Regions from separate parts of the Homo sapiens genome. Here region 1 is linked to region 2. Evidence: fine-mapped expression QTL. A gene starts in region 2. The other region holds a variant in brackets. All regions are shown on one strand. Distances are between the middles of the regions.

Evidence for each region. PIP is the estimated chance that this variant, and not a neighbour inherited with it, causes the effect.
Region 1: its variant is the best candidate, but not a certain one, in a credible set for the expression of TRAPPC6A in monocytes (BLUEPRINT, PIP 0.75).

Annotation. Positions count from the first base shown.
Region 1 is chr19:45,573,921-45,584,847 of GRCh38, forward strand. It overlaps OPA3 (outer mitochondrial membrane lipid metabolism regulator OPA3), which reads right to left and starts at 10,882. Exons shown (of 2, transcript NM_025136.4): 1 at 10,703-10,882. The coding sequence starts at 10,844. RefSeq lists enhancers at 3,342-3,977, 3,455-3,604, 7,055-7,555, 8,055-8,990, 8,991-9,926 and 1 more. The variant TTTTTTTTTTTC/T (reference allele first, on the strand shown) is at 6,070.
Region 2 is chr19:45,171,954-45,183,587 of GRCh38, forward strand. TRAPPC6A (trafficking protein particle complex subunit 6A) reads right to left here and starts at 6,284. Exons shown (of 6, transcript NM_001270891.2): 1 at 6,182-6,284. The coding sequence starts at 6,265. It overlaps BLOC1S3 (biogenesis of lysosomal organelles complex 1 subunit 3), which reads left to right and starts at 6,831. Exons shown (of 2, transcript NM_212550.5): 1 at 6,831-6,878; 2 at 7,335-9,847. The coding sequence starts at 7,344. The coding sequence ends at 7,952. RefSeq lists enhancers at 5,662-6,605, 6,618-6,687, 6,758-7,077, 7,618-8,118, 8,544-9,045 and silencers at 6,038-6,257, 7,428-7,737.

The DNA.
Region 1 (10,927 bases), 400 kb after region 2:
GGGAGGCCACAGCGGGCGGATCACTTGAGGTCAGGAGTTGGAGACCAGCCTGACCAACATGGTGAAACCCCGTCTCTACTAAAAATACAAAAATTAGCTGGGCGTGGTGGCAGGCGCCTGTAATCCCAGCTACTCAGGAAGGCAAAAGCCTGGGCAACAAAGTTAGACTCCATCTCAAAAAAAACAAAGGGGGCTGGGCGCAGTGGCTCACGCCTGTAATCCCAGCACTTTGGGAGGCTGAGGCGGGCGGATCACGAGGTCAGGAGATCGAGACCATCCTGGCTAACATGGTGAAACCCCGTCTCTACTAAAAATACAAAAAATATTAGCTGGGCGTGGTGGCGGGCGCCTGTAGTCCCAGCTACTCGGGAGGCTGAGAGGCAGGAGAATGGCGTGAACCCGGGAGGCGGAGCTTGCAATGAGCCAAAATCGTGCCACTGCACTCCAGCCTGGGCGACAGAGCAAGACTCTGTCTCAAAAAAAAAAAAAAAAAAGAAAAAAAAAACGGATTCCATGTATACCCCCTGTAGCCTGTAGTAGCAACCAGATGGGCATGTCCCGGGCCAGGGCTCGCCTATCCACTATCCTGCTGCATCCTCACAAGAATCCTGGGAGATAAGTTCTATTAGTATCCCATTTGATAAATATGGAAATGGAGGCTCATAGAGGTCAAGCTGCCTGCTCAAAGTCACATGGCTAATAAGCAGCAGTGCCAAGATCCGAAGCCAAGAGTGCCTACTCTGTGGCAGACTGTGCCATCAGGGACCCCTTCGTATCACACCCTGTGCAGTTCTTTCCCACACCCACTGTGGTCTGTGCCTGGAGCTGCTTTGACCAATAGTGTGGTGGAAATGACGCTGGAAGATTCCAGGCCTTGCCCTTAAATAACCTGCAGCTTCTGCTTCTTCCCTCATGAAAATCTGGCTGTTGGGGAGTCCTGAGCAGCCATGTGAGATATTCAGCTACCCTGCAGGAAAGACCACGTGGAGAAGAGAGGCCCAGAGGCTACGCTGAGAGGGAACCAACTCCCCAGTCCCAGTGCCAGTTCCAGATGACTCCAGCCCAGCCACCTCCACCTGCACCTGGATGAGAGCCTGCCAAGCAGCAACCAGCAAAAGAACTGTCCGGCTGAGCCCAGGCAAGCCACAAAGGTAACAGAAACTAAGAGTGACTGGGTTTTTTGTTTGTTTGCCTTTTTGAGACAGGGTCTTGCTCTGTTGCCCAGGCTGGAGTGCTGTGGCACGATCTCGGTTCACTGCAGCCTCCACCTCTCTCAGGTTCAAGCGATTCTCCTGCCTCAGCCTCCTGAGAAGCTGGGACCACAGGTACCCGCTAAATTTTTGTATTTTTAGTAAAGAAAGGGTTTTGCCATGTTGCCCAGGCTAGTCGCGAACTCCTGGCCTGAAGTGATCCACCCACCTCAACCTCCCAAAGTGCTGAGATTACAGGCATGAGCCACTGCACCTGGCTAAGAGTTACTACGGTAAGCCACCAAGCTTTGGATCAGATGGCTATGTAGAAAAAGAAAACTGAAACCAAGTCCATGGCCTAAATTCATAAGAATGGCCACAGAGCTGAGCACTTCTGAAAAAATGACCTCAGCAACCTGAATGAATGATCATGGTGTATCTGTTTCCCACGGCCACTATAACAAACTACCACAAATGCAGTGGCTTAAAACAGCACAAATTATTATTATTATTTGAGACAGGGTCTTGCTCTGTCACCCAGGCTGGAGTGCAGGGGTGCGGTCACAGCTCACTGCAGCCTCATTCTCCTGGGCTCAAGCAATCCTGCCGCAGCCTCCTGAGTGGCTAAAACTATAGGCATGCATCACCATGCCCCACTAATTGTTTTTTATTTTTAGTAGGGACAAGGTCTCGCTTTGTTGCCCAGGCTGGTCTTGAACCCCTGGGTTCAAGTGATCCTCCTGCCTCGACCTTCTAAAGTGCTGGGATAACAGGCATGAACCACCGCACCTGCCCTAAATTTATTATTTTACAGTTCCAGAAGTCAGAAGTCTGAAATGGGGGCCAGTTGTGGTGGCTCACGCCTGTAATCCCAGCACTCTGGGAGGCCAAGGCGGGTGGATCACCTGAGGTCAGGAGTTGAAGACCAGCTGGCCAACATGGTGAAACCCCCGTCTCTACTGATAATACAAAAATTAGGGCATGCGCCTGTAATCCCAGCTATTCAGGAGGCCAAGGCAGGAGAATCGCTTGAAACCGGGATGCAGAGGTTGCAGGGAGCTGAGATCATGCCACTGTAATCCAGCCTGGGCGACCATGTGAGACCCCCTCTCAAAAAACAAAACAAAACAAAACAAAAAACTGGGCGCAGTGGCTCACGCCTGTAATCCCAGCACTTTGGGAGGCCAAGGCAGGTGGATCACCTGAGGTCAGGAGTTCAAGACCAGCCTAGCCAACATGGTGAAACCCTATCTCTACTAAAAATACAAAAAATTAGCCAGGTGTGGTGGTGGGTGCCAGGTGTGGTGGTGGGTGCTACTCAGGGGACTGAGGCAGGAGAATCGCTTGAACCCAGGAGGCAGAGATTGCAGTGAGTTGAGATCGTGCCACTGCACTGCAATCTGGGCAACAAGAATGAAACTCCATCCCCCCCCCCCCAAAAAAAAAAGTCCAAAATGGCTTTCACTAGGCTAATCTCAAGGTGTCCGCAGGGCTGTGTTCCTTTCTGAAGTCTCCAGTGGAGAATCCATCTCCTCGGCTTTTCCAGCTTCCAGAGGCTGCCCGCATTCCTTGGCTCATGCCTCCCTTCCTCCATCTTCAAGGCCAGCGGGGCAGCATCCCTCAAATCATTCCCTCTCTTGCCTCCCTCTTTCCCTTATAAGGACCCCTGTGATCACACTGACCTGACCTGCATAATTCAGGATCATCTCCCCATCCCCAAATCCTTCATTTGATCACATTTGCAAAGTCACCTTTGCTGTGCATGGTAACATATTCAACAGGTTCTTGGGATAAGGATGTGGACATCTTTGGGGGACCAGTCACTCTACTGCCTACTGTGTGTGATAAACCAGAAAAAGGACCAGTGCGCGCCAAAGGAATAAACACAGATGAGCTGGAATTTTCCTACTGCCCAGAGATATCTCACAGCCTCCCTGGGAGCACCAAAAGTGCACTTTGCAGGCATGGCCTCAACCTGCCTAACATCACCAACCTCCTTTACTTTTGGGTTAAAATAATTTAAACAAAGGAATTCTGTGTTTAAAAAGATCTTTGCCTCCCCAACAGGGTGCATCATCGATGATTTATGCTTCTAGCATGTACTGTTCTTTCCTCAGGCAGCCACAGCTACTGCTCCAGCCTCTCCTGTGAGACAGCTGGGCGCAGCCTGCTGAGTCAAAAGTATCTCAGCCAAAGGTACAGATACTGGATTTGCTGGTCAGCTCAGGACGCCTGACCTGAGAGAAAGCAGGGCCGCCAGTGCACCCTGGGAAATTCCAATCACCATGGCTGGGGGCCACAGCAAAGGGCAATCAGCAGTGTGAAGACACTAATGATGTAATTAAAAGGTGTAAATGTAAGAAGCCAGTACATTGCAATATCTGGTAGCATCTCCAACTCGACCTGTCCCTAACTGAGCTCCAGGTCTTTCTGTCCAACCTGCCCCTCCTCCAGTCGGCTGTCTCACACCCAATCCATGGGAAATCCTGCTGGCTCTACCTTGTAAACAAATCTACTGGTTATTCATTACTAAGAGGAAAAGGAAAGGTTCTTGACATGGTTACACCTTAACCAAGCGATCCAAATCACCATCACAAATGACAGAACAAATAGACCTCAGGAGTCCCCTGAAGGGATGTCCTTAGGAGGCACCTCGAGTCTGTGGTGTTCCCGCCAAACATGTTCAACATGAATCCAATCGGGGAAGCAATCAGGAGACTCCAGACATCGGGACACACTATCAATCAGAGGACTGGCTCCAATGTCAATGTCAAAAAACAAGGGCAGGGATACTATTCTAGAGCAGGGTCAGAAAACTCTTCCTGTAAAGGGGCAGAGAGTAAATATTTTAGATTTTGAGGCCAGGCGTGGTGGCTCACGCCTGTAATCCTGAAACTGCCTTTGCAAAATTATGACTGACACAGCAAAAGAGATCTAACTTGACTGACTCCATCTTACTTCCAACCTCCAAGCTGTCCTTGTTCATTCCTGAGTGAAGGCTGAACTAACTTTGGGAGAAACTTAGTTTATAGTTTAAACAAACATGGTAACAGCCCTTTCCCAAAGCAGACCTCCTTCTTGCCTGGTGACTAGATTGCCTTTGTAGGACTAACATTAGCCACAAGATTAGAAATTATGGTTTAGGAGTCATGCAGCTGGAGGATACAAGATTCTGACCCTCCCTAAACTGCTCCTAAGATCAGTGCTTGAGATATTCTGCAGACTCTGCACTTGATGGATCAGCTGGCCCCACCCAGATCAAAAAATTGGCTCATCTGATCTTGTGCCCGCCCTCCCCCTCCCCCACCGCCACCCAGGAACTAACTGAGCACAAGACATCTCTGAATTCCTATGATTTCATCTCTGACCAATCAGCACTCCTGGCTCACTGGCTTCCCCTCACCCACCAAGTTATCCTTAAAAACTCTGCTCCCGGGCCAGGCGTGGTGGCTCATGCCTGTAATCCCAGCACTTTGGGAGGCCAAGGCGGGCAGATCTCCTGACGTTGGGAGTTAGAGACCAGCCTGATCAACATGGAGAAACCCCATCTCTACTTAAAATACAAAATTAGCCGGGCGTGGTGGCGCATGCCTGTAATCCCAGCTACTCGGGAGGCTGAGGCAGGAGAATCACTTGAACCCGGGAGGCGGAAGTTGTGGTGAGCCAAGATCACACCATTGCACTCCAGCCTGGGTGTCGGAGTGCGACTCTGTCTCAAAAAATAAAATAAAATAAAATAAAACAGAACTCTGATATTGTCCTTCTGCTGCACAGAACCCTCCAGTAAGTCCTGTTCCACTCAGAGTAAAGCCAAGGCATTTGCAGTGACCCACAGGCCCCATACAAACTGTCCCCCTTTCCCGTCATCAGTTTCCTCTGTCCTGTGTGCCAGGCACGCTCATGCCTCAGGTCCTGTGTGCATGCGGGATCCTCTGGGCTGGAACGTTTCTTCCCCCAGATGGCAATGCTGCTCGTTCCCTCCCTCCTTGGCATATTTTCAGTGAGTTCTCCCTGACAATCCTATCTAGGCTTATAGCCTTCCTTTAAATACTCCTTGTTCTACAACCCTGATTTTTTTCCTAGAGCAATTATTGCTATCTAATATACTTCATCTTTTAACTATTTTTTGAGATGGAATCTCACTCTGTCACCCAGGCTGGAGTGCAGTGGTGCAATCTCGGCTCACTGCAACCTCTGCCTCTTGGGTTCAAGTGATTCTCCTGCCTAAGCCTCCTAAGTAACTGGGATTACAGGTGCCTGCCACCACACCTGGCTAATTTTTGTATTTTTAGTAGAGATGGGGTTTCACCATGTTGCCCAGGCTGGTCTCAAACTCCTGACCTCAAGTGATGCACCAGCCTCAGCCTCCCAAAGTGCTGGGATTACAGGCATGAGCCACTGGGCCCAGCCAACTATTTATTTCATTTATTGTCTGGCTTCCTCCACAAGAATGTAAGGTACCTGAGGGCAAGATGTTTTGCTTTTTCCTGCCTGTTGTATCTATAACATCTACGTGACAGCCATGACCCTATGCCAGGCACTGACTTAACATTTTATATCCATTTACTTAATCCTCACCACAACACAATAAATATTATTTACAGCATAATGCATACATAGTATATACACAAAATAATAATAATAATAATAATAGTATCTACCTCATCATAACTGGTGAGGACCCAGTGCCAGAGGCTGGAAGGTGCTGCAGACAAGCCGTGGCACAAAGTACAAGCCCAGTTAATGTGACCATTACATAATACCCAATGTACAGAATCGGAAATTGAAGCTAAGAGGGGCTAAATGACGTACCCAAAGTCACCAGTCTGGGTAGGGATTCAAACCTATGTCAGTCTGACTCCAGAAGCCATTTTCTTTC[TTTTTTTTTTTC/T]TTTTTTTTTTTTTGATATGGAGTCTCGCTCTGTCACCCAGGCTGGAGTGTAGTGGCACGATCTCGGCTCACTGCAACCTCCGCCTCCCATGTTCAAGTGATTCTTCTGCCTCAGCCTCCCGAGTAGCTGGGATTACAGGCGCGTGCCACCACGCCCAGCTAATTTTTGTATTTTTAGTAGAGAAGGGGTTTCACCATGTTGGTCAGGCAGGTCTTGAAATTTGACTTCGTGATCTGCCCACCTTGGCCTCCCAAAGTGTTGGGATTACAGGCGCGAGCCACTGCACCCGGCCTTTTTTTTTTTTTTTTTGAGACAGAGTTTCACTCTTGTTGCCCAGGCTGGAGTGCAATGGCGTGATCTCGGCTCACTGCAACCTCCACCTCCTGGGTTCAAGCGATTCTCCTGCCTCAGCCTCCCGAGTAGCTGGGATTACAGGCATGCGCCACCACGTCTGGCTAATTTTGTATTTTTAGTAGAGACGGGGTTTCTCCATGTTGGTGAGGCTGGTCTCTAATTCCCGACCTCAGGTGATCTGCCTGCCTCGGCCTCCCAAAGTGCTGGGATTATAGGTGGGAGGCACCGCGCCCAGCACAGAAGCCTATTTATTTATTTATTTATTTATTTATTTATTTATTGAGACAGAGTCTCGCTCTGTCGCCCAAGCTGGAGTGCAGTGGTGTGATCTTGGCTCACTGCAACCTCTGCCTCCCAGGTTCAAGCAATTCTCCTGCCTCAGCCTCCCAAGTAGCTGGGACTACAGGTGTGCGCCACCACACCTGCCTAATTTTGTATTTTGAGTAGAGACAGGGTTTCACCATGTTGGCCAGGCTGGTCTTGAACTCCTGACCTCATGATCCACCCACCTCCGCCTTCCAAAGTGCTGGGATTACAGGCATGAGCCACTGCGCCCAGCTCCAGAAGCCATTTTCTAAACCACAACGCTAAGAATGTCACAGTGTTTGGAAGACAGGCAGAGACAGGAAACAAACTGGGTCTAGGAATTCAGTGTCCAAAGTTTCGCCTCTGGCACAAATCTCTGCGTATGACCTGAGCAATTAACTGCTGCCCTCAACACCTCCATTTTCCCTTCTATAAACCAGAGGAAGTCATTCCTCTTTCCGGACATGGGGACAAAACAGTTGTGGGGGTCAAATGAGATGGCTAACAGGAAAGCACTTTGGTAACTGTGAAATCTAATACTTTCCCATTCTAAGAGCTGCAGCCCCAACAAAGACCCCACCAAACACCGAACAACCAAGAATTCCGGGCCCTGGAAAGCAAACTTTAAGCATCCAAACTTACAGAGGGGGAAAAAAAGTGCACTCCCTTAATCATGTGGGCTTTGTGTGTGCTCCTCCCTCTGCCCCAGTGCTTTCCTTACGCCTTGTCCTGGTGTTGTCCTCACCCTTCAGGTCCCAATTCAGATGTCTCCTCTGCCAGGAAGCCCTCCCTGAACCCCATGCCATGTCAGGTGCCCAGTGGGCTCCCCCATCTCAGCTCTGCCCACTGTTGGGGGATACGTCTGTCCCCCGCAGGACTAGGAATTCCTTGAGGGCACAGATTGGTGCTGGTTTGGTCCCTGCTGTTTCGCCAGCATTGCCAGCACAAGGCCTGGCACAGGGCAGAGGCTCACAAAATACCAGCTAAAGGAAATAATGAATGGATGGAGGGATGAATGGTGTGTAACCGCCCAAGGAGTTCACCTTGCCCGCTGCCTAGACAGAGCTGATTCATCAAGAGAGGAGAACTGCAAGACAAAGAGTAATTCACGCAGAGTTGGCTGTGCGGGAGGGTGTTTTGTTTGTTTGTTTGAGATTGAGACAGTCTTGCTCTGTTGCCCAGACTGGAGGGCAGTGGTGCAATCTCGGATCACTGCAACCTCTACCTCCTAGGTTCAAGCAATTCTCCTGCCTCAGCCTCCTGAGTAGATGAGATTACAGATGTGCGCCACCACACCCAGCTAATTTTTGTATTTTCAGTAGACACGGGTTTTCACCATGTTGGTCAGGCTGGTCTCGAACTCCTGACCTCATGATCCACCCACCTCGGCCTCCCAAAGTGCTGGAATTACAGACGTGAGCCACCGCGCCCCAGCCAGGAGTCTTACCATTACTCAAATCAGTCTCCCTGAGCATTCAGGGAGATTTTATTTTTATTTTATTTTATTTTTTTTTTTTGAGATGGATTTTCACTCTTTCGCCTGGGCTGGAATGAAGTGACGCGATCTTGGCTCACTGCAACCTCCATCCCCGGGTTCAAGCGATTCTCATGCTCCAGCCTCCCGAGTAGCTGGGATTATAGGCGCCCGCCACCAAGCCCGCCTAACTTTTGTATTTTTAGTAGAGACGGGGTTTGACCATGCTGGCCAGGCTGGTTGCAAACTCCTGACCTCAGGTGCTCCACCCCCCTCAGCCTTCCAAAGTGCTAGGATTACAGATGCGAGCCAATGGGCCCAGCTGGAGCAGAGTTTTTTTGTTTTTTGTTTTTGTTTTGAGACGGAGTCTCGGTCTGTCGCCCAGGCTGGAGTGTAGTGGTGCGATCTCGGTGGAGCAGAGTTTTTAAGGATAACTTGATGGGTGAGGGGAAGCCAGTGAGCCAGGAGTGCTGATTGGTCAGAGATGAAATCACAGGGAGTCGGAGCTGTCTTCTTGCGCTCAGTCAGTTCCTGGGTTGGGGGGCCACAAGATCAGATGGGCCAGTTTATTGATCTGGGTAAGGCCAGCTGATCCATCAAGTGCAGGGTCTGTGAAATATCTCAAGCACTGATCTTAGGAGCAGTTTAGGGAGGGTCAGAATCTTGTACCCTCCAGCTGCATGACTCCTAAACCATAATTTCTAATCTTGTGGCTAATGTTAGTCCTACAAAGGCAATCCAGTCGCCAGACAAGAAGGAGGTCTGCTTTGGGAAAGGGCTGTTACCATGTTTGTTTAAACTATAAACTACAAACTAAATCTCTCCCAAAGTTAGTTCAGCCTTTGCCCAGGAATGAACAAGGATAGCTTGGAGGTTAGAAGCAAGATGGAGTAAGTTAACTTAGATCTCTTTCGCTGTGTCAGTCATAATTTTGCAAAGGCGGTTTCAGTGGTTCTCTGACCCAGCCAATGATGCTAAATTCCCTTATTTTATGTCCCACGTAGCACAACACAGATCACCTTTTTTTTTTTTGGAGACGGAGTCTTGCTCCGTCACCCAGGCTGGAGTACAGTGTTACGATCTCGGCTCACTGCAAGCTCCGCCTTCCGGGTTCACGCCATTCTCCTGCCTCAGCCTCCTGAGTAGCTGGGACCACAGGCGCCCAGCCACCACGCCCGGCTAATTTTTTTGTATTTTTAGTAGAGATGGGGTTTCACCGTGTTAGCCAGGATGGTCTCCATCTTCTGACCTCGTGATCTGCCCACCTCGGCCTCCCAAAGTGCTGGGATTACAGGCGTGAGCCACCGCGCCCGGCAAGATCACCTTTTTAAAGTAGTTTATATTTTGGGTGTTTACTAAGCCCTTTATTTCTATTTATTATTTTTTGAGACAGTCTTGCTGTGTCGCCCAGGCTGGAGTGCAATGGCACAATCTAGGCTCACTGCAGCCTCCACCTACCAGGTTCAAGCGATTCCCCTGCCTCAGCCTCCCAAGTAGCTGGGATTACAGGTGTGCGCCACCACACCCAGCTAATTTTTGTATTTTTAGTACAGACCGGGTTTCACTATGTTGGCCAGGCTGGTCTCGAACTCCTGGCCTCATGTGATCCGCCCGCCTCGGCCTCCCAAAGTGCTGGTATTACAGGTGTGAGCCACCGCGCCGGACCTTACTATGCCCTTTAGATCTGAGCTCGGGCGGCCCCCTCTAGGCAGCCCTGCTGGCCTCAGGTCCCTGGGTCAGCCAGTTCCTCTGAGCTCCGGGGCTCCCACTTTCCCGACCACTCTGGGTTGACAGTGATGGATCAGGAGTATATCTCCCAGTGCTGAGCAAAAAGGCCGCATAGTCTGTCAACCGAATGAAAGGACGGCGTATGAGCGCATTAATGAGTACACAGATGAATGTCCTCTCTGGCTCAAAGTCCTTTTCCGGATTCCCAGGCCATGTCTCCAGAACCCAGACTTCACCCCCGAACCATGCCCCTAATCCAGACTTATTGACTACAGTAAAACTGAGGCACGTCGACGTCCTAAACGGAGGATATACAAGCACCTCCTAGATCAGTGGGGAAACTGAGGCACACGGTGCCGCTTTTGAAATGAAGTTGCCCAAGGACAGCCGGGCAAAGGACCCCGTCCGGTTTCTCCTCAGCCCCTCCCCTAGCTCCTCTATCCTGGAAAGCCCCGTCCAAATTTCTCCCATCTCTCACACTATTGGTTTAACAGGGCATCAGTCTCCAAGCGCTCTCTTCCTTTATCGGCTGGCATTTCCTACTCGCGTGGTGGCTCCTTGACCCGCCCCTTACGCCCCGCCCCGCCCTCACTACTGGGCCACCCGTACGCCCCTCTATCAGAAACCCCCCACTATTGGCCACTGGACTTTGCCGGTTCGGGCTGTGATTGGTCGTAGACAGAAGTCCATCCCCTAAGCAACCACCTGACAGGGGTTGGAGAAAGGAAAAAGGTTGGAGGGAATTCGGGTCAGACTCACGTTGAGCCGGCGGGAGGCAGATATAGGTCTTGAAGAACTCGCTTCGGCGGGCGGCCTCCTTAATACGGTTGGCAAGCGGCTTGCTGACCTGCCGGATGCCCAAGTATAGCAGCTTCGCCATAGGGAACGCGCCCACCACCATCTTGGCGGTCTCACAGGGCACGCGCAACCTTGCTGACTGGGCGGGGCGCCTCAACCTCTTCACTCCTCCCCCGCCCTCTCGTG
Region 2 (11,634 bases):
GGAATCCTCTCTTTGCCCAAAGGCTTCCCTTGTCTTCAAAGCCTCTGAGGTAGAAAAGCCACGGCTGCTTCCTCCAAGGGCTTCTCCTCCTTAGAGAACAAAGGCCTTCCTGGCCCCTCTGGCCGGTCCTCCAGTTCACAACCTGTGACAGCCCAGGAGAATGGCCACAAATAACCACCGTACCAGGCAGGATAGGAGGTCACAAAAGCCCTACACACTGGCTGTGGCTCCTGGGCACCTGTGCTGTGGGGACAGAGATGAAGGAGCCACCATCCCTGTCCTCAAGGAGCTCTGAAGCTGGTGGGAAAGGCGGCCTGTGCTACCCAGAAGCCCTGGGGCCAGAAGCCTGAGTTCTAATTTTGCCTTTAAGAGAACATTCTGCCCTGAACTGGGAGGGAGGCGGGTGGGGGCCATGTGCTCCACCCCTTCCTGTCTCTTGTGTCTGCCCTACCCCTCGATTGTTCTCTAGGCACCTGCTAGCTCCTGGGCAGAGGCTGACCCTGTTCAACGCCCACCTGCTGAGCCACTCTGTGCCAGGCCCAGGGGTGTGGTGGGGAACCCAGGGAAGGAGCAGCCCTGGTTAAGAAAAGCACACAGACAGAAGTGCTGGCACACAGATGGGTGAGTGAGGGGTGGGTGCGAGAAGCCTGCAGGACTTCCCTGCTGTTGCCCTCAACTCTCCTCCCTGGTCCAGCAAGGCATCCTGAGCAAGTCCAGATCCTGCCTCTGCCCACTCAGAACTCCCCATCCTGTCCCCTGGCCCAGCCCGGAAGGTTGAGCCCACCACAGCCTCTGCCTTAAGCTCCTGCAACAGCGGGGCCCTTCCCAGGCCAATCTCCATCCAGTCCATTCCTGTGGCCAGGGAGACATTTCTAGAATGTAAATCTGAGCCAGGCGCACCTCAGTTTAAACCCGGCTATGGCTCCCACTGCCTTCGGGATGGAGCCCCAGTTCCCAGGAGGGCCTCGCTGGAGCTCCCAGCCACAGATGCTCAGGACGGTGTTCCGGGCAGGGACCTATCTGACAGCCGCTCCGCCCGCCCCACACCCTCCTCAGATAAGGGGCTGCCCAAGTGCACTCTCGGGGTGTGGTGGATGGAGGCCTGGCGCAGCAGGGCTATTCTCGGGGCGCCTCGGGCCTGGTCTCAGACAATGGGTGACAGCGCCTTAGCTCTTTACTACATGCACTCAGGGGAATCCTCTCTTTGCCCAAAGGCTTCCCTTGTCTTCAAAGCCTCTGAGGTAGAAAAGCCACGGCTGCTTCCTCCAAGGGCTTCTCCTCCTTAGAGAACAAAGGCCTTCCTGGCCCCTCTGGCCGGTCCTCCAGTTCACAACCTGTGACAGCCCAGGAGAATGGCCACAAATAACCACCGTACCAGGCAGGATAGGAGGTCACAAAAGCCCTACACACTGGCTGTGGCTCCTGGGCACCTGTGCTGTGGGGACAGAGATGAAGGAGCCACCATCCCTGTCCTCAAGGAGCTCTGAAGCTGGTGGGAAAGGCGGCCTGCGCTACCCAGAAGCCCTGGGGCCAGAAGCCTGAGTTCTAATTTTGCCTTTGAGTCTTGCTGAACCACCTCGAAATCCCTTCCTCTACCAAGCACAGGGTCCCTCCTCTGTGAATCGGGAGGGCTGTCCTGAGGACTAAATGCAGTCAACACTGTGCAAGTACTGCACAGACGCCCTCAGGAAACGGGAGGCCTGTCTGGTTCAGAGGAACCCTTTTGGGCCAAAGAGAAGGAATGGAGAGAGGAGGTGGGGCCAATAAAGAGAAAGGACTGAGGAAGCCGTTTCTCATGACAGGCCCCCTGAAAAACGGGGCTCCCCAGGAGGAAGGAGTGAGGGGAAACGATGCAGTTCTCACCCCTAGCTGCAGCGAGAGCCACCTGGGAGCTTTCTGAGGCCTGACACTCAGGCCTCACCCCAACCGGGTTCGTCAGAGTCTCTGGTGTGGGACTCCAGCATCGGAATGTAGTGGCAGCTGGGTAGGGAACCCCTGCCCAAGGTCCCAGGCACATTCGTGTGCTCTGAAAGGCTGGTGGTGAGCAGAGCTGAGTAAGCCAGTTTCCCACACTCGCTTGACCACAGAAACCCATTAAAATCCTTCCCAGGGCAAATGCTGGGAAATGCAAGTGAGAGTTTACAGCACAGGCTTTGGAAGTGGGAGGCCTGGTCGCGCTCCTGACTCTGCCACTTGAGAGCAAGGAACTCCGTCCATCAAAGCCTCCGCCGCCTCATCTGTAAATCGGGGAGGACCATGCCAACCTCTCTGGGTCATCAGAAGATCAAATGAAATCAAGAGTGAGAAGCCATGAGTGCACACAGGAAGCACTCATATGAGGGGAGGGAGGGAAGAGCTAGCACTGCTCATAAGCCAAATGAATCCCAGTCCCCACCCATCCCCACCTGCCACGGCACAGGCTCTGCATTCACCTCCTCAACACGTCCACACTGAGGACCCACTACGAGCCAGGACATCCAGTGGTCATCAATACACACCCAGGCCCATCCCGCACAAAGTACACTCCGGCTGGGGGAGACGCATGTGAATTAAAGGATCATACAGATACACAATTCAGACGCATCCTGGCAGGGCGTGCTGGCTCACACCTGTAATCCCAGGTGTGAGTTTTTGGGAGGCTGAGGCCAGAGGATCGCTTGGGCCCAGGAGTTCAAGGTCAGCCTGGGCAACATTGTGAAAACCTATCTCTACAAAAAATTTAAAAATTAGCAGGGTATGGTTGTGTGCACCTGTACTCCTAGCTACTCAGGAGGCTGAGGTGGGAGGATCACTTGAGCCCAGGAGTGTGAGGCTACAGTGAACTATGATCATGCTACTGCACTCCGGCTTGGGTGACAGAGCAAGACTCTCTTTAAAAAAAAATCAGCCGGGCGTGGTGGCTCACGCCTGTAATCCCAGCACTTTGGGAGGCCGAGGTGGGCAGATCATGAGGTCAGGAGATCGAGACCATCCTGCCTAACACATTGAAACCCCGTCTCTACTAAAAATACAAAAAAAAAAAAAATTGCCAGGCGCGGTGGCTCACACCTGTAATCCCAGCACTTTGGGAGGCCAAGGCAGGCAGATCACAAGGTCAGGAGATCGAGACCATCATGGCTAACACAGTGAAACTCTGTCTCTACTAAAAATACAAAAAATTAGCCGGGCGTGGTGGCAGTCACCTGTAGTCCCAGCTACTCGGGAGGCTGAGGCAGAAGAATGGCGTGAACCCGGGAGGCAGAGCTTGCAGTGAGCCCAGATCGCGCCACTGCACTCCAGCCTGGGGGACAGACCGAGACTCTGTCTCAAAAAAAAAAAAAAAAATTAGCCGGGTGTGGTGTCGGGCACCTGTGGTTCCAGCTACTCGGGAGGCTGAGGCAGGAGAATGGCATGAACCCGGGAGGCGGAGCTTGCAGTGAGCCGAGATCGCGCCACTGCACTCCAGCCTGGGCGACAGAGCGAGACTCCGTCTCAAAAAAAAAAAAAAAATCAAATACATCCTTATTGAGTATGATGAAGCCTACCAAGAAAAAAGTGCGAGAGGGAGACCAGGAGAATGTATAAAGGAGATCCAAATTTGACTGGGGGCTCAGGGAAGGCATCCCTGAGGAAGGGATTGTTACGCTAAGATCTGAAGGATTAATAGTTGTTAGCATGGTGAAGATGTGACAGGTGGAATGGGCTGGGAGAAGGGAGCAGGCTCATTTCACAGGAGAGCGGAAAGCACTGGACCAGGGCAGAGGAGGGGCCACGTGAGAAAGGTATTTAGACTGACTGGGCAGAGCCTGGGGGAGGGCTGCAGGTGAGGGAGACAAGGCAGGTGTTGGGACTCCAGGGTTTCTCGTTTGAAAGCCAGGAAGGATATGGAGTGTTGGGACATTATTACCCACCCCCAGGCTGATGCATACTCCCTGGGCCATGCTGTATCTTCCTCATAGCAGTTACACAATGTACCAGACACTTTACTCATTTACTTGTCTGTCTCCTCCAATGATGACAAAGCTCCAAGAGTCCAAAAATTTTTGATGGTTCACTGAGTAATCCCCATGTTTTTTTAGAGACAGGGTCTCACTCTATCACCCAGGCTGGAGTGCAGTGGCATGATCATAGCTCACTGCAGCCTTGAACTCCTGGGCCCAGGCAATCCTCCCACCTCAGCCTCCCGAGTTCTTGGTAGTATAGGCATGTGTCATCACGCCCAGCTAATTTTAAAAATTTCTTGGCCAGGCACAGTGGCTCACACCTGTAATCCCAGCACTTTGGAAGCCCGAGGCGGGCAGATCACGAGGTCAGATCAAAACCATCCTGGCTAACATGGTGAAACCCCATCTCTACTAAAAATACAAAAAAAAAAAACAAAATTAGCCGGGTGTGGTGGCAGGCACCTGTAGTCCCAACTACTCAGGAGGCTGCGGCGGGAGAATTGCGTGAACCCAGGAGGCGGAGCTTGCAGTGAGCCAAGATTGCGCCACTGCACTCCAGCCTGGGCGACAGAGCAAGACTCTGTCTCAAAAATAAATAAATAAATAAAAATAAAAATTTCTTTTAGAGGTGAGGTCTTGCTATGTTGCCCAGGCTAGTCTTGAACGGTGGGCCTCAAGTGATCCTCCCACCTCTGCTTCCTGAGTACCTGGGATTACAGGTGCAAGTCGCCACATCTGGCTAAATGCATTTTTGATTTATGATGTTTTAAACTTATGACAGGTTTGTATCTGTATATCGAGATGGTAACAAGCAACATCCTCCCTGGGGCTTCTAACCCTGGAAGGAAACCAGAGCCAATAAAAATGTCTTACATGGCCAGGTGCGGTGGCTCACGCCTGTAATCCCAGCACTTTGGGAGGCCGAGGCGGGTGGATCACAAGGTCAGGAGTTCGACACCAGCCTGGCCAAAATGGTGAAACCCCGTATCTACTAAAAAAAAAAAAAAATTGGCCGGGTGCAGTGGCTCACGCCTGTAATCCTAGCACTTTGGGAGGCCAAGATGGGCAGATCACGAGGTCAGAAGATGGAGACCATCCTGGCTAACAGTGAAAACCCGTCTCTACTAAAAAAAATAATAATAATACAAAAAATTAGCCAGGTGTGGTGGCGCCAGCAGCGCTTGTGGTCCCAGCTACTTGGGAGGCTGAGAAGTGGGATGATCGCTTGAGCCCAGGAGGTCGAGGCAGCAGTGAGCCATGACTGCATCACTGCACTCCAGCCAGCCTGGGCGACCGAGCAGGATGCGCGTGCGCGCACACACACACACACACACACACACACAGTCCCGGGCCAGTCACGGTAGTTCACGCCTGTAATCCTAGCACTTTGGGAGGCCCAGGCGGGAGAATCACTTGAGCCTAGGGGTTCAAGACCAGCCTAGGCAACATGGCAAAACCCCATTATCTCTTTTTTTTTTTTCCTGAGACAAGTCTCGCTCTGTCGCCTAGGCTGGAGTGCAATGGCACAATCTTGGCTCACTGCAACCTCCGCCTCCCAGGTTCAAGCCATTCTCCTGTCTCAGCCTCCCGAGTAGCTGGGATTACAGGTACCCGCCATCATGCTCGGCTAATTTTTGTAGACACGGGGTTTCACCATGGCCAGGCTGGTCTTGAACTCCTGACCTCAGGTGATCCGACGGCCTCGGCCTCCCAAAGTGCTGGGAGCTACAGCGCCCAGCCGGCATATTTCATTTTATTATTTGACTCCCCTAGTGAAATGTAAGCTTCACAAGGAAGGGATTCTGTCTTAGAACGGTGCCTGGAATACAACAGACGCTCAATAAGTGGGTGTCGAATAAATAAATGTCCCACGCTGAGGCTTAGGTACGTTATGATACTCATTTTACAAAAGAGAAAACTAGGACACACAAAGATTAAGTCATTGGGTCGCACACCTAGTAAGTGGGGGAGGCGAGTCCTCAGCACACGCCCAATAACAGCATTATTATGATTACTAGCCGCTTACTCAGGCCTTGAGCTAAGTGCTTTACCCTGAATCATCGCGCTCAATTTAGCAATAACCCCGAGCCGGCACCGTCGCGAACGCCACTTTCCAAAGGAGGAAGCCAGGGCCAGACGTTGCCCTGCAAGGCCGGGGCTGGGCCGGGTTCGAACCCGGACGCCTGACGCGCCCTCCGCTCTCCCAGAGGCGTTACCTTGGTGGCCCCCGCTTCCTCCCCACGGAGCCCGGCGCTCACCCCCGGGCCGGGGTCGGGGTCGTGAGCCCACAGCTCAGCCACCATCTCCGTGTGAAGAAACTCAAACAACACAGTATCCGCCATGCCCCCTCCTCGCACGCCTAAAGATGCGCCCAGCGCTTCCAGCTCTCATTGGCCAGGCTTGGTAAGCCACGCCTCTTGCGTCATGGCGCGAGCCCTCCTACTCCGGCTTCCATTGGTGTTTTAGACTAGCCCCGCCTCCCCGCCCCGGACTCAGGTGGTGTGCGCGTGAGCCTGGGACACTAGGGGGCGGGCCTACGCCTTCTCTGGCCACATGTGGCAACATCTTCTGCTCTTACTGCCGTCCCTTCCCTATTTCCGGGTTCTCGAGCATTCCTATTGGCCAAATTACTGGTTACACGTGACATACTCGGCTTTTAAAATCCCTATTGGTCCACTCCAGACTTTCCTCGTCGCACAACCTGGAAGAGCCGGCCCAGCTGTTTCTCTATTGGCGGTTCCTCCATTCATGTGACTCTTCTGCACGCTCACTCAAAGCTGATGCTGAGAACTTGCTTCCTGATTGGTAGCCGGGCGAATCCACGTGACTTGGCCGCTAATGCCCGCCCAACCCGCTCCCCTATTGGTTGAAATCACAGCCCTTCAGCTGCCACGGTGAGAACGCAGCACTCGGGTTAGGAAGCGGATCTCGCAAGCTCCGAGCGTCAGCTGCCGGGTACGGTCTTTGGCGTTAGCGCTTCTCCCATCCCATGAGTGCCCCCAGCAGAGTCCAGTCGGACTGTCATCCTTTCTGCGACTCTGGCGCTGGTCCCGAGCAGCTCACGGGCCCGTGTGCTTCCGGGTCTGAGATTGGCATGGTGGACCAGGTGGAGGGTGTGGCCTCTACTAGGAGGCAAATTCGTAAAGACCTCGGCTTGGGACTCCGGGAACTCGGGCCCCAGATCCTTGTTCGAGCTGGTCTTCAGTTTCCCCATCTGTACGCTGAAGAGCCTGGGGTCCAGTAACCCCCATCATCACCCAGTTTACAGAAGAGGAAACTGAGGCCCAGACGGGGAGCAGCTGACACCAAGTCGTTAAGAGAATCAGCGAAGGGGCTGGGAATCCAGGACCTGCGCCTTTTACCCACCGCGGCGCCGGTCTCACGTGCAGTCCCTTCGCTCTTCTCCCCTAGTTCGGTGCCATGGCGTCCCAGGGTCGTCGGCGGAGGCCCCTGCGGAGGCCGGAGACGGTGGTGCCGGGGGAGGCGACCGAGACGGATTCCGAGCGCTCTGCGTCCTCGTCGGAGGAGGAGGAGCTGTACCTGGGTCCTTCGGGCCCGACGCGCGGCCGCCCCACGGGGCTGCGGGTGGCTGGGGAAGCCGCGGAGACCGACTCGGAGCCGGAGCCGGAGCCGGAACCGACGGCCGCGCCGAGGGACCTGCCTCCACTCGTGGTGCAGCGGGAATCGGCGGAGGAGGCCTGGGGCACGGAGGAGGCCCCGGCGCCCGCCCCCGCGCGCTCGCTCCTGCAACTTCGGCTGGCGGAGAGCCAGGCGCGGCTGGACCACGACGTGGCGGCCGCCGTGAGCGGTGTCTACCGCCGTGCAGGCCGCGACGTGGCCGCCCTGGCTAGTAGGCTGGCGGCAGCCCAGGCGGCGGGGCTGGCGGCGGCCCACAGCGTGCGCCTGGCGCGCGGGGACCTTTGTGCGCTGGCCGAGCGTCTGGACATCGTGGCTGGCTGCCGCCTGCTGCCGGACATCCGCGGCGTGCCAGGGACCGAGCCTGAGAAAGACCCGGGGCCGCGGGCCTAGCCATGATTCTACTTCCCAACCTGACTGCAATTTGGGGGTAGGCCTTGCTGCCTCTGGGACCTGACTCTGTCTCCTGTGTCTCTTATCACCCCCCACCCCCGCTCCCATCTTGGTGTCACCCATGGGGGCTAATCCGGTCCCCTTGGATAATGCTTTATATTGGATATAGTTCAACCCCTACTGCGGAGACCAGGGCCCCACTATCCTTAGATCTGGTTCCTCTCCCGATCCTGACCCTGCCGCCTGGTTCTGAGCCTTCCCCTGGGGCTTGGCTCCAGCCTTTGTTACATAGTTGCTCCTTAATCTGTTTCCACCCTGGGGGCTCACCAATTTTTTTTTTTTTTTTTTTTTTTTGGAGACAGGGTGTTTATCTGTCACCCAGGCTAGAGTGCAGTGGCGGGATTACTGCTCACTGCAACCTCGACCTCCTGGGCTCAAGTGATCCTCCCAGCTCAGCCTTCAAGAGTAGCTGGGACTGCAGACCTGCACCACCACGTCCAGCTGCCCGGTTAATTTTTTTCTGTCGGTTTGAAGAGGGGAGAAGGTCTCACTATGTTGCCCAGGCTTGTCTCAAACTCCCGGGCTCAAGCAATCCTCCCACTGTGGCGTCCCAAAGTGCTGGGGTTACAGGTGTGAGCCACCACACACTGGGCTCTGCTCTGCCTTTCTGAGTTTGGTTTCTGCTTATGGTGGGGAGCTTGTTCCCGTTCTTCCCACAAGAACCCAGGATGTGGCACAGCTTCCCTGCCGTCTTCCTTCACTCAGTTGGCTACGCCTCCCATCCTAGCTCCACTTCCAGAACTGCCTTCACCCTAGGCTGGGTCCTTGTTTTGTTTTTAGAGACAGGGTCTCACTGTGTCTCCCAGGCTGGAGTACAGTGGCGTGATCTCGGCTCACTGCCACCTCCACCTCCCGAGTTCAAGCGATTCTCCTGCCTCAGCCTCCCGAGTAGCTAGGATTACAGGCATGCACCACCACGCCTGGCTACTTTTTATATTTTTAGTAGAGATGAGGTTTCACCTTGTTGGCCAGGCTGGTCTCGAACTCCTGGCCTCAGGTGATCCACCCGCCTCACCTCCTAAAATGCTGGGATTACAGGCGTGGGCCACTGCGCCTAGCCAGCTGGGTCCTTGTTCTGCTGCCCAAGCTTGGCCCTGGTTCCGTGTGCTGGTTCTACTTTTTGTTCTCCCATCTGCCTCCTGCCTCCTCCCCTTTGAGCTTAGCCCCGCCCTCTCAGCCTGATTTCTGTTTCCCAAGTCCAGCAGTGTCGTGGGATAGGTTTTGCTTTCTTTTACTGTCTCCATCCTACTTACACCTCCCTGATCCTGGGGTCTGGGGACTCCCCATGGTTTCCTTCCTTCTGCAGGCCCAAAATGATGGCCCCTCTTAACCCAAGGCAGGGGATCTTCCTCCCAACTCCCTGGACCAAGGTGGCATTTCCTGCACACCCCTCCAGGCCAAGATGATGCTCGCTCTCAACTCTGTAGGCCAAGGTGGCGTCTCCTCTTGACTCTCCAGACCTAAAGTGACACCCTTCAGGCACTTCGGGCCCAATTCAGCCCAGTCCTGGTGCTTTCAGCGCCAGATGACAGCACTTTGCAGATAAGAACGATATGATGTGTGGATTTCACTACATTTGGCTCCTGGATGCTATAAAAGGACTTGGATTTCTGACTTGGCTCAGGGACTGGGGTTAGCAGTCTCTTTCTGCTCCTTTTCACCTGTGTTTTCTTCCGATCCCAGCTCTGGTCCCTCAGCCGCATTCATATTTACTCTCCTCTCCCAGCCTGATATCCCTGTCCCTCATCTCAACCCGAAGCCAAGATCTGAGCCCCCAAGATGGAGAATGGGGAGGAGCTTTTTATGGCGGACTGATTAAAACTCTTAAGCATTTACCCTTATGGTTAGTTCCTTTTGTTTCCCTATCTAAGCTAAGGGTGAGTTGGTTGATTTCTCTGAGAATGGGGGTCCCGAGACCTCCATGCCTGGCTTATGGAAGGTGAAGCTGTAGTTGGGAAATCAGGGGCCCTAGATTTTTGCCCTGGTTCTGTATTTACTCGTATTTTATTAATTCAACACACACGTTTTGGGTACCTGACCTGTGCTGCGGCTAGGGGTATAGCACCCAGTCCCTGCCCTCACAGAGGTCGCAGTCCAGTGGGAGAAACAGTAATAAGATGTTCTCATAGATAGTTCTAGTAATCATAATTTATAGTTTAATTTTTAAAAATAGAGATGATAGCCTGGCCAACATGGTGAAACCCTGTAGTTATTAAAAATACAAAAATTTTGGGCGATGTATCACGCCTGTAATCCTAGCACTTTGGGAGGCCGAGGCACGTGCTAGTAATTCCAGCTACTCAGGGAGCTGGGGCATGAGAATCGCTTGAACCCTGGAGGCAGAGGTTGAAGTGACCCAAGATCGTGCCACTGCACTCCAGCCCGAGCGACAGAGCAGGACTCTGTCTCAAAAATAAATAGGCCAGGCGCAGTTACGCATGTCTTTAATCCCAGCACTTTGGGAGATCGAGGTAGGCAGATCACCTGAGGTCAGGAGTTCTAGACCAGCCTGGCCAACATGGTGAAACTCTATCTCCACTAAAAATACATTAGCCAGGCGTGGTGGCACATGCCTGTAATCCCAGCTACTCGGGAGGCTGAGGCAGGAGAATCGCTTGAGCCCAGGAGGTGGAGGTTACAGTGAGCTGAGATCATGCCACTGCACTCCATCCTGGGTGAGAGTGAGACTCCATCTCAAAAATAAATAAAAAATAATTAATTTTAAAAAATAAAATAGAGACGAGCTCTCACAATGTTGCCCAAGTTGGTCTTGAACTTCTGAGCTCAAGGGATTCTCCTGTCTTGACCTCCCAAAGGGCTAGGATTACAGGCATGAGCCACTGCACCCAGCCATAATTTATAATTTAGATACAATTTTCTTGGCACCATGATTAGAGCCATGAAGAAGTAAAGGAGCTTTATGAAGGTGGAGCGGGATCCACCTGACCTAATCTGGGCGGGAGAGAGGAAGTGATGAGTGGTGCTGGAGCTGAGCCCGGAAGGTGGAAGTAGGTGAAATGGGAGTAGGGTGAAGAGTTGCAGACAGGGAGAACAGCATATGCGAGGGCCCTGAGGCAGAAGGGAAAGGGACCATAACCTGTTTAACAGAAGAAGATGATTTCTGCTCTCCACCTAGAATGGAGAAGTGTGGGGTGGTTGTGGGGCAGGGGGGTGCTGAGTGCAGTACCAGAAGGGGCCAGATAAAGGTGAGCTTTAAAAAAATTGTATTATTGGCTGTGCGCAGTGGCTCACGCCTGTAATTCCAGCACTTTGGGAGGTCGAGGCAGGCAGATCACCTGAAGTCAGGAGTTCGAGACCAGCCTGGCCAACGTGGTGAAACCCTGTCTCTACTGAAAATATAAAAATTAGGCATGGTGGCACATGCCTGTAATCCCAGCTACTCAGGAGGCTGAGGCAGGAGAATCGCTTGAACCCGGGAGGCAGCAGTTGCAGTGAGCCAAGATTGCGCCACTGCACTCCAGCCCAGGGGACAGAGCAAGACTCTGTCTCAAAAAAAAAAAAAAGTAGGTGCGGATCAACCAGCATCTCCTCCCTCCTGAGCACTCCCTCCAGCTCCCCTTCCACACCTAGGGCGAGTGGATCACAATTCAAAGAGGATGAT